2 separate regions of the Homo sapiens genome follow, and region 1 is linked to region 2. The links come from fine-mapping of genetic effects on gene expression. A gene starts in region 2. The other region holds a variant in brackets. All regions are shown on one strand. Distances are between the middles of the regions. Region 1 overlaps LOC105374329 (a long non-coding RNA gene). Region 2 holds the start of NCOA1 (nuclear receptor coactivator 1).

Region 1 (5,376 bases), 39 kb before region 2:
AAAAAAAGAGAGAAAATAGCTTGATAAAAAAATGAAGGTGTCAATAATAGATGAATAACTACTAAAACAGGATAAAGGCATTAGATGATATAGAATCGAACTGTGTAGCCAAAAACAGTAAGAAAAGCTACCTATAAAATTCAGGTTTAATGGGCTCTATGGAAGAAATCTCATATTTTCCATTCATTTATTAATGCTCACATTGATCTTTATTTTAACACTTACTGACATTATATTTAGACTTCATATTTTCTTATCTTTATGCTACTTTGTGTGCTTTGAATGTTTATGTGCACCCCCCCATCCCAGAATTCATATTTTGAAACTAATACCCAATGTGAGGGTATTTAGAGATGGGGCCTTTGAGAGGTGATTAGGTCATGAGGGCAGAATGCTCCTGAATGGAATTAATGCCGTTATGAAAAAGGTTTCAGAGAGATCCCCACCCCTTCTGCCATGTGAGGTTACAATGACAAGATGGCCTTTCTATGAGAAAGTGGGTTCTCATCAGATGTAAAATCTGCTAGCACCTTGATCCTGGACTTTCAGCCTCCAGAATTGTGAGCAATAAATTTCTGTTATTTATAAGCCACTCAGTGTATAGTATTTTGTTATAGCTTCTTGAACAGGCTAAGACACTACTGTATAAATGTTCCCCTGGCAGATATTTGATGCTTTTTCTGTGTTCCTTCAGAATTTTGTACCAACTTCTATTATAGCACTGCCTACTTGGGCTGTAAGACAGTTTAGCTCAGTGGCCCAGAGTGGTGACTCTAAAGTCAGACAGATGTGACATAGATTCTTAGCTCTGCCACTTACTAGCTTTGTGACCTCAATCAAATTACCTGACCTATAAGCTTCATTTTCTTGATCTGTCAAATGAGGGTAAGAATAGATAGTCATAAATGCTAAATCAGACAATGCATGTAAAGTGCTTAGTACAGTGTCTGACACATAGTAAACTTCAATTCATCTTTTTTTTTTTAAGAGATGGGGTTTCATCACGTTGCGCAGGCTGGTCTCCAACTCCTGGGTTCAAGAAATCAACCCACCTCAGCCTCCCAAAGTGCTAGATTTACAGGCATGAGCCACTGTACCCAGCCAATTCATCTTTATAGGTGCTTGTCTGCCTTACTGTACTACAGTCTCCATGAAGATGTGGACCATGGTATGTTCTTTTTTTGTACTCAAGTACCTGACATGTAGTAAGTCCTAGTAAGTGTTTGTTGGGTGAATTTGCAGCTCTGTATAATAGTCCTTTTTCTTAACAAAAGGTCATATGCCATGTTGGTTCACTATCTAGGAGACTTTTAAACAGAGAACAGAGAGCCTAGCATGTGCTCATCTGGTAAGGTGTGCTTCAGGGTAAATAGTTATTGATACTTGTAACTCTTTTTAACCTATGATCTAGAAAACTCCATTAGTCTGGCTTTCCCCAAAGTTCTTGTGTCCATTAATTTTTCTGTCCACAAAGTTTTCTACCATCCCCACTGAAGACATGCCTGTGGTTTTCTGGGATGACTAATTATTTTATTTTAAATTCACCTCTAAATCTTTATTCCAGAGCATCCTGTATGCAGTTAAAGTTATTAATATTTTGCATTTGGCACCCCTGAGAAATATCAGCATTCAATTATGGACCACATTCTCCTCTTTTCTCTAGTTGCTCCAATGTTGCATTTCCCATGAAGTTTATTAAGAATTTAAGGAGGGAGGAAAACAACCCAGCTATCTTTCCCTTTGACTGATGGCACTAATTTAAATTTTCCCTTTAAAAGTAATGTGTGGTGATATGGTTTGGCTGTGTCCCCCGCCCAGATCTCATCTTGAATTCCCACGTGTTGTGGGAGGAACCTGGTGGGAGATAATTGAATCATGGGGGCAAGTCTTTTCCCTGCTGTTCCCAGGACAGTGAATAAGTCTCATGAGATCTGATGGTTTTAAAAATGGGAGTTTCCCTGTAGAAACTCTCTATTTGCCTGCTGCCATCCATGTAAGACGTTGACTTGCTCCTCCTTGCCTTCTGCCATAATTGTGAGGCATCCCCAGCCATGTAGAACTGTAAGTCCATTAAACCTCTTTCCTGTATAAATTACCCAGTCTCAGGTATGTCTTTATTAGCAGCTTGAAAACAGACTAATACATGTGAATATATTGGTATAGATATAGGTATTATTATGGCTATACTGGAGACATATATGTAGTTTTTTATATGGATGAAAAAGTCTGGAAAAATACATCTCAACAAGTTAACCGTGGTCATCACTGGGTGGTGATGTTATCGGTGTTTAGTTTTTCTTTCTACTTCTCAAAATAAGGCCTTGATGGGTTGGTTTCTTTTCTGCTTTCACTTTAGCTGTAATAATTCTCCGAGACTATTAACTGTTTTCAAAGTCTATTTTCCCATTCGTTTAGGTAATAGGACCCTTAACTTTTAGCTGAATACAAGATGACCAGAATAAAGACTACATTTTCCAGCCTCCCTTGAAACTAGCAAGAGCCGTGTGTCCCCCTTCTAGTTAATAGGATGCAATTAGAAATGTCACGTGCAATTTGGGGAAAGTGTCCTTGAATGGAAGATGCACTCTCCTTCCTTCCTTTTCTCCTTCTTGCTGA[T/C]GAGGAGGCAGATTTAATGACTAGAAGTTGAGCAACCCTTTTGGACCAGAAGAATAAAAGTCACACCCTAGGGATGGCAAACTGAAAAGCTGGAAGAGGCCTGGGTTCATGACAATTCCGCAGACCTTGCCAAACTGGCCTTAGACTTCTCATCTCCAGATGTTTTACATGAGGGCAACATATACGTTTAAGGAATGATTAATTTGGGTTTTATGTTATAGACAAATCAAATCCTAACTGGTGTGAAATTAGTGTATAATTCATATTTTCCTTTGCTTCAGTAGTGAAGAATTTGTATTATATGCTCTTCCCCAGACACGCTTAACATAATTTCTGTAAGTGAACTGTCAAGCTTTAATTCTTATGCAGTTTTAAGATTGTTAAATCTTGCATATCTCTAGTTCAATGAAAACATTAGCATATGTTTACCAGAACACACATAAAAAAATGTTCATGGCACAATCCATTTGTAATAGCAACAATTTATTAAACCACTGATAAACATGGTTAAATAAATTGTGGTACAGTCCTGCTATTGAGTGTTACACAATGGTGAAAATGAATAGAGTATGATCTCAACATTATTGATCAACCTTAGCAATATAGTATTGAGCTAAAAGAACAAGTCCTAGAAGACAACATATAATACATTCAAAACAAATAAAACTAGTATACTGTTTAGGCCCACGCAAATGTGCAATGAAATTTAAAGAAGAGCAATGTATGATAAAAACAAAATTTAAAAGAATAGTTACTACTGAGAAGAATGTTGGGGTCTGGTATGGGATGGAACAGGTAGGTCGATGTATGTCATGGAGAGTTTTTGGCTTTTGGGTTGAGAGGTGGGGTTATGAGTGGTTTCTTGTATTATTATAACACATACAACGAAAATAAATGAAATGAGGTTTATTTAAAAACCAATGGGCCAGTCATAGCCCTTGATTCATGACACACTATTAATATGAATCAGAACTGTGATTAATCCAGTTTTGTGCTTCTGAAGTTCATAAAACAATCATACCACTTAGGAAGCTGCCTATTATGCAGGCCTGGTTTTATTTCTATAAATCAGGCAACAAGGATGGATGTGTTTCTATTTGTGTACCCAACTGTTTCCCTAACCAGGTTTTTAAAAATAAACTTTTAATTTTAGAATACTTTTAGATTTACAGAAAAGTTGCAAAGATAGGACAGAGTTCCTGTAACAACCCCCACCAACACCACTTCCCCTGCTGTTAACACCTTGCATTACTGTAGTACATTTGTTCCCACTAATGAACCAATGTTGATACATTATCATTACCCCTACCAGATTTCAGGCTTCCTGAGAGCACAGTCCATGCATTTTAGCATTCCCCATTTTGCATCTAGTCAGTATTCTGCATGTGTTGAATTGATGAGGAAATAAACTTTTTAAATGACCAAATTTTCTGCAATAAGAAGCTCCATATTTTATAATAATTTATAATTTGCTTTAAGTAGCTTTAGCTGCTTTGAGATAGAACCCTGAGCTAAGTTGGGTTTAATGTTCTTAAAAGTCATTGTTTCTGAATTATTTACCAACAGTCTCATTAGAATGAGCACGGGAAGCCAAATGCTGAACTGGGTATTTTTTTTTTCCTCCCTAAGTTTCTTTTCTAAATCAGGTCACGGAAAATGGATGCTATTTCTTTAAATAATATAACCAAGCTGATCCCTGGATTACAATTAGGTTACGTAACTTGCTTATGAGCTGCTTTTCATTAAAACTTGCAGTGGGCAATGGGGCTTTACGTTTCAGAGCAAAGCCGGGGAGAACAATCCTGCCGAAAGCCAGAACACATGCGGTGTCAGTGGCAGAGACTGCAAGAATTTCGGCACGAGATTGAGTTCAATGTAGGCGACTCCTTTTCTCTTTAAATCCTTAAAACATCCTTTGTCCTACCAAACTTGCTGGTTCCAAATACGTCTAAAACGTACATGCTGAGTGCCCACCCCATGAGGGAAGATCGCGTGGCCAGTCCCCAGAAGGCTGAGGAATGAGGAGCCCTCCAGGGAGAACATTATCAAGTTTCTGCAGAACCATAGCTCAGTTTTATTTCTTGCAGAACACACATTACTAGGAAACATTTTAAAGATGTGGACTAGGGAGGTAACAAAAACCTAGTTCCAGCCTATAACCATATATTTGCAAATAAGCATTTCATGGGTACGAAAATCAAAGTTTAGGGTGTCAGATCAGGTAGAAAACAAGAGGCATGGTGTCAAAACCCAAAGAAAAGAAGTCTGAAGAGAGTTGGGATGAGGGTTCATCAAAAAATACAAACATCTGTTCTGAAAAATGGAGAGAAAGCCAGCTTTCCCTAGAAAGGAAGTTGTTCGTTGCTGTTATACAGGATACTCACCACAGGATGAGAGACTTTTTTTTTTTTTTTTGAGACAGAGTCTTGCTCTTGTCACCCAGGCTGGAGTGGTGCAGTGCGCAATCTTGGCTCACTGCAACCTCTGCCTCCCGGGTTCAAGCCATTCTCCTGCCTCAGCCTCCTGAGTAGCTGGGATTACAGGCGTGCGCCACCACGCCTGGCTAATTTTTGTATTTTTAGTAGAGATGGGGTTTCACCATGTTGACCAGGCTGGTCTTGAACTCCTGACCTCATGATCCCCCCACCTCGGCCTCCCAAAGTGCTGGGATTACAGGTGTGAGCCACCAAACCTAGCCTTTTTTTTTTTTTGAGACAGAGTCTGCTCTTGTCGCCCAAGCTGGAGTGTAGTGGCATGATC
Region 2 (5,376 bases):
ATCTTCAAAGCATTTTCATTTAATTGGAGTTAGTCTTCCTTGTTGATTGGCATTGTATTTTGGGAGTAAATAAATTTTAAATAGCTAAGGTAAATGGATTTTAGAGAGGCTACTTGTACAGTCACGAAGTAAATCTAATGAATCTTTTGGCCCTATATTTAGGGTTGCTCGGGTGGATTAGTAAAATGGGCCTGTTTAGTAAAAGTAGATGGAGTCTGAGAGAAGTTGAGTATGACCAGAGAAAAGATTACCAATTGGAGACATAAAAGGGTGTTATAACTGCTTTGACAAGTGATTATGACTTGTAGAGGAAGGAGAAAAAAGTCAAAGAGTTATTATTTAAGAAACATTACCAGGCGCAGTGGCTCATGACTGTAATCCCAGCACTTTGGGAGGCCGAGGCTGGTGGATAACCTGAGGTCAGGAGTTCAAGACCAGCCTGGCCAACACGGCGAAACCCTGTCTCTACTAAAAATACAAAAAATTAGCCGGGCGTGGTGGCGGGTGCCTGTAATCCCAGCTACTCGGGAGGCTGAGGCAGGAGAATCACTTGAACCCAGGAGGCAGAGGCTGCAGTGAGCTGAGATCGCGCCACTGCACTCCAGCCTGGGCGACAAGAGCGAGACTCTGTTTCAACAACAACAAAAAAGAAACAGTACCATTCTAGAAAAGAACTCTCTCTTTAGCATACATGGATGGTTATGGCAATATAAATTAACACCTAAATAATTTGTCATTCAACAAAATCTTAGCACTGTGTGTCTTGAGGATATTTTAAAGTTAATTACGACCCCGGGCTGCAGAGTGGGAGATTGGAAGAAGGAAATTCAGGAGTTGTTTTGTTAACAGTTGAAGCTGTGGAAATAAACAGTCAACCGAAGCCAGAGGAAAGGAAGGAAAAAAATAAAACCTTGAGGATACCAACATTTTTTATGGCCCCGTAAAAAAGGAGCAGCCCAAGAAAAGTGCAAACGAAGGCAAGTTCAGAAATCAGGTAGAGAGACTCATATTGAAGACAAGGGAGGAGAGTTTCAAAAAGGAGGAGTTAGCAGTATCACGTGCTGTAGAAAGGCCACACGACAGTAGGACTGAAGTGGCCACTAGATTTGGCCTTCAGCACTTACTAGAGTCTAGTGGAGACAGGAGTACCTTGCACAAGTGGCTCATTTGTTGGCACCAGAGGCTAGAACAAGGCACTTTCACACAGTCTGCATTGGACTAGATTGGGAAGTAGGCCCTACATTAGGGGACGAAACTCATGAGTGCCCGGGTATTTTCAGCTATTATTGGGGATAGGGACTCTGCGGGTGGCTAGAGGTACTGCTAAGCCAGAGCTCAGGAGATGCACCTAGGGCCCCAGTAGTAGGTCTCCGATAAGAATCAGGGGAATGAATATATAAATGAATGAATATATGAATGCATGTGGGGGTGTGGTCTAGCGATTACTTTATGAGCGTGACAAGGATAGGAAGAGGATGGTGAAAGCATACAGTAGTACCTGCCTGTGAAAGAAGCTGCCCGTCGACTCAGAGAGCTGCCACGGAGATTGGTGTTTTCAAGGCTGTCAGGTTCCCCAGTTGGGAGAAGGGTGGGAAGGGCTTAAGGATTTACAGAGATTGATTTAGGGGAGAACACACAGGAAGCGAAACAGCAGGAAACGCCGGGAGACAGCAGCAGCAGGACAGGATTGAGGAAGGGTAAGAGTGCGAAATGGGGTAAGAATAAAAGAAAGGAATGGACAGATGTATGCTTTACAAGGCACTTCCACGGCGAGTGACTCATTCATGCTTAGGACAACCCAGGGAGAGACATAGGTATATATTGCATTGCCAGCCTTTGGAATGCGGGATGCGGTCCAGATAAGGCCATCGCAGCTCAGAGAGGCTGTTCAGCCGCTGTTCGATTCCTCTGGTGACAAGAACACTCTACTTTTGGAAGTAGCACTTCTATTAGAGAAGTTAAAAAAAAAAAAAAAAGAAAAGGGAGATAAGAAGAAAGGTGTGGGCCCCTTGAGGGGAAAGATCTGTGAATGACAGACATTTTAGATAATTCATGGAATTGCAGAGCCAGAACGGGTCAGGCAGATCTTTTCATCTGTAAAACGAAGGGGGCAGACGATCTTCCTTTTCTCTTGTCTAATAGCCTGTGAAATCATCTAGGCAACCACCTCCCAATTTTACAGAATAAAAAACGAGGCCCGCGGGATATGTCTCGCTCAAAGTAACAGAACGCCCGAGTGGAGGGACAGGCCCGGAGCCGACTCCGCCCCGTCCGCAGGGCCTCTCGCCGCTCCGACACCTTCCCAGAAAGATAAAGAACAGCGGGAGGCGGCAGGCCCGGCGGCCTAGCTGCGAGCGCCCTGGTGTTCGAGGCCGCTTCCCGGCAGCAGTGGGAGGAACGCCCCGAGGGGAGGGCAGGAGAGGGGCGGGGAGGAGTTGAGACGGGCGGGGAAGAGTTCGGGCCTCCTTTCCCACACTTCGTTAGGACGCCGGCTGGGGCGGGCCGGCAGAGGGCGCGGGGCGGTTCCTCGCTCGGCGGGCCCGGCAGGCCCGGCGGGCTGGGGGCGCGCTGTCCCGGGCGCACTGTCGGAGCTCGCGGGCACCGGGTCGCGGCGGCCCGGGCGGCCGGAGCCGGCAGGGGAAGTGCGGCGGGCGGGCAGGCGGGCGGCCGGGAACGGGCGGGGCGGGGCGGGGCGCGAAGGGGGCGGTGCCGCGAGCGGGGGGCGGTGGCGGCGGCGGCGGTGGCGGCCGAGGAGGAGAACATGGCGGCCGCGGAGAGCGGCTGAAATGCCTGTTCTTCAGGCCGGGCGAGCGGGAGTCTGACGCGATTTGCTGAGCTCTGTCCTCCGACGGCTGCCTCGCGGCCTTGAGGGCCTCCGCCGCCTGTTCGCTGCTGCTCCCTCGAGCGGAGCCTGCGTCAGGTTCCCTCTGCATCCCCCTGCGGGGGGACCCCTGCTCCGGAGGAGGGGGCCGGAGAGCCGCGGCGCCGGGCCCGAGGAGCGGCGGAGGCCGGGGCGGCGCCGCCGCCACGGTCGCGGACGAGTGCGGCGCCGGTGAGCGGGGCCCAGAGGCGGCGGCGGCAGGTGAGTGGCGGGCTGCGGGTGCGGAGCCTCCCGGTGGGTGCAGCTGTCACGAGCCGCGCGGCCGCGGAGGCCCTAGGGGGCGGGGAGCAGCTGGCGCCCCTCCGCCCCCTGCTCTCCTTTCTCCCGCTCCATCCTCCTCCCACTTCCCCGAGTTCCCCTCGCGGCCCGGCGCGGCTGGAGGGGGCGGAGGTCGCAGCTGTCACGGGCACCAGCTGGGGGCTGCTCCCCGCCGGGGGAAATCGCTGCAGCAGCGACTTCTCTCCGCCTCTTTTCCAGTTGCCCTAGTTAGCGCGGAGAGGGCGAGCATCCGCGGAGGGGGTGCGAGCTGCGCGGCCGCCTGCCCGGCGTGGGGAGCGGGCGCCCCGGGCCGCCGCCGAGAGGGGGAGCCGGAAGTCGGCGCGGGCGCCCCTCGGCCCCGACGACGCCGTGACCTTGGCCGGCCCGCTCACCTCTCGGAATCTCGCCTGCCGGGACCGCGAAATGGGGGCGACCGCGGCGTCCCTCTCCGTCGGCGCAGCCCTCGACGGCGCTTGGGTTTGACCCCGGCGCGCTTGCTCGCCCCTTCTCCCGAGAAGGGGTTTCGGAGGTAGACATGGGATGGATACTGGACATGTTCCTGTCGCGGCCCGGGTTTGGTCCCCTTCCTGGGATTCAGCCGAAAGGGCCGAGGAAGGGAAGCAAACATGTTGACGAGGCGATTGGGAGGTGGGGTTGGTTAGTGGGCAGTGACAGAATTCGGGCCGCTCTCTAGTCCCTTGTAAAAGACCTGAAAAAATCGGACACCCAGGGTCTCCAGTCCTTACTACCCAGCTGTGGTGGCTGCTTTTTTATTTTATTTAAAAGCAGTTACCCCCATGGGTAGACACTGCCCAGTCTGACGACGTTAGAGGGAGACGGAGGGGTTGACAATACAGCCTGTGTGTGTGTGACAAGGACAGGCCACGGTGTTGTGTCCGGAGAGTTTCATGGGGAGGAAAACTTTAAGCTGGAGGATCTGTTAGCCTCTCATGCTTGGCCCTCCTCGTTTCTTGTAGAGGTGTTGAACAGGCAGGTGTCCTTGTGCAGAAGGTGACATTTTTTCTTCGGAGACGGTGAGTTTTTAATGTCGAGTGTGATGTTGGTGAGTAAAGGGTTCTTGAGTGAATTGCAGTCCCAGCACCCTCTGTGGATGCCAAGAGGAATCTCTGTGGCGATGATTTGTGAGGGCTGGTGCTTACATTTCAGTGATTAAGAAATCAAGTGTCTGCTTAAAACATTACTGCCGTGAAGCGTAGATTATATGATACAGTTGAGGGATGGATCTCAAGGGTTAAATTTGTTTGAGGTTTGTCTCCTCTTCTGGAATTGGTTGGAGGCTAGTCTCAAAAAAAAAGCAAACAAAACAACAACAATAACAACGAAAGTTGGCCAGAGGGGCCTCCTATGATGTTGTAGGAAGGGGGTCGGATTTCTTCATGTTGAGAATAATGTGAAAAGAAAGTATTTGCTTAGGTCTCTTGGATCTTCAACTAGAAATAGTTTTGGGTTAAAGGTAGCAGTGGGGTTTGATTCAGCTTAACAAATAGGCATTCCTTGAACTATTTGCCATAAATTAGATAAAATGGAAGTGTTTCTGTTTTATCTCCTGTACTTTGTGGAAAGGTCTAATTTGGTTTTGTGAACGAATGTCCGAAATGTTTTATATTTCTTCTTCAGACTCTATGCTTTGGGAACAGTGGGTCACAGAGAGGGTCTGAGTTGGGAATATATGGTTTAGAGAGAAAATAGAGGACTGCTGCTTATAAGAACAGGTGTTTAGTTTGATTTTTGTAGATATTTTCTACTGGTTATTTAACAACATTGAAGTTTGCTTTATAAGGTGCAAAACGTGAATTTTACGTAGCTTACACTTGATCTCTTCCTTATTTCTCTCAGAAAACCTGTAGGATTGTGCCTATTAAATTGCTTTTTGTGTGGTTTAAACCAAGAGAGTATTTTAGATCTGCAGTGGTTTTATTGGAAAAAAAAAAAAAGTGCTTGATGGAGCTAATGGTGATTGTTTCACTTAAACTAGGATTATATAGACAATGCTTCTTCCTGCCTCTTTCTGCGAACATTTGTTTTTGTTTCTCCCTCAATTCCAGGGTTTCATTTCTAGAAATCTGGGCTGCAAACAGAAGCAGCAGTTTGTATAATCCCAAGAACTTGCTTATGCCAGGAAGCTGTAAGGGTAGCATGAAGCGGGTGTGATGTAAAGACACTGCTACTACTTAAGACATTTAACTGTTGAGGGAGTCTAAGGTCAAACTTTAATT

What was found. PIP is the estimated chance that this variant, and not a neighbour inherited with it, causes the effect.
Region 1: its variant is the best candidate, but not a certain one, in a credible set for the expression of NCOA1 in whole blood (INTERVAL, PIP 0.86).

Annotation. Positions count from the first base shown.
Region 1 is chr2:24,450,011-24,455,386 of GRCh38, forward strand. The region is part of intron 2 of LOC105374329 (a long non-coding RNA gene); the gene reads left to right. Among named protein-coding and RNA genes, the nearest start is that of NCOA1, 39 kb to the right of the region's middle. The variant T/C (reference allele first, on the strand shown) is at 2,617.
Region 2 is chr2:24,488,521-24,493,896 of GRCh38, forward strand. It overlaps NCOA1 (nuclear receptor coactivator 1), which reads left to right and starts at 2,734. Exons shown (of 23, transcript NM_003743.5): 1 at 2,734-3,082. RefSeq lists silencers at 2,387-2,726, 2,704-2,862, 3,017-3,506.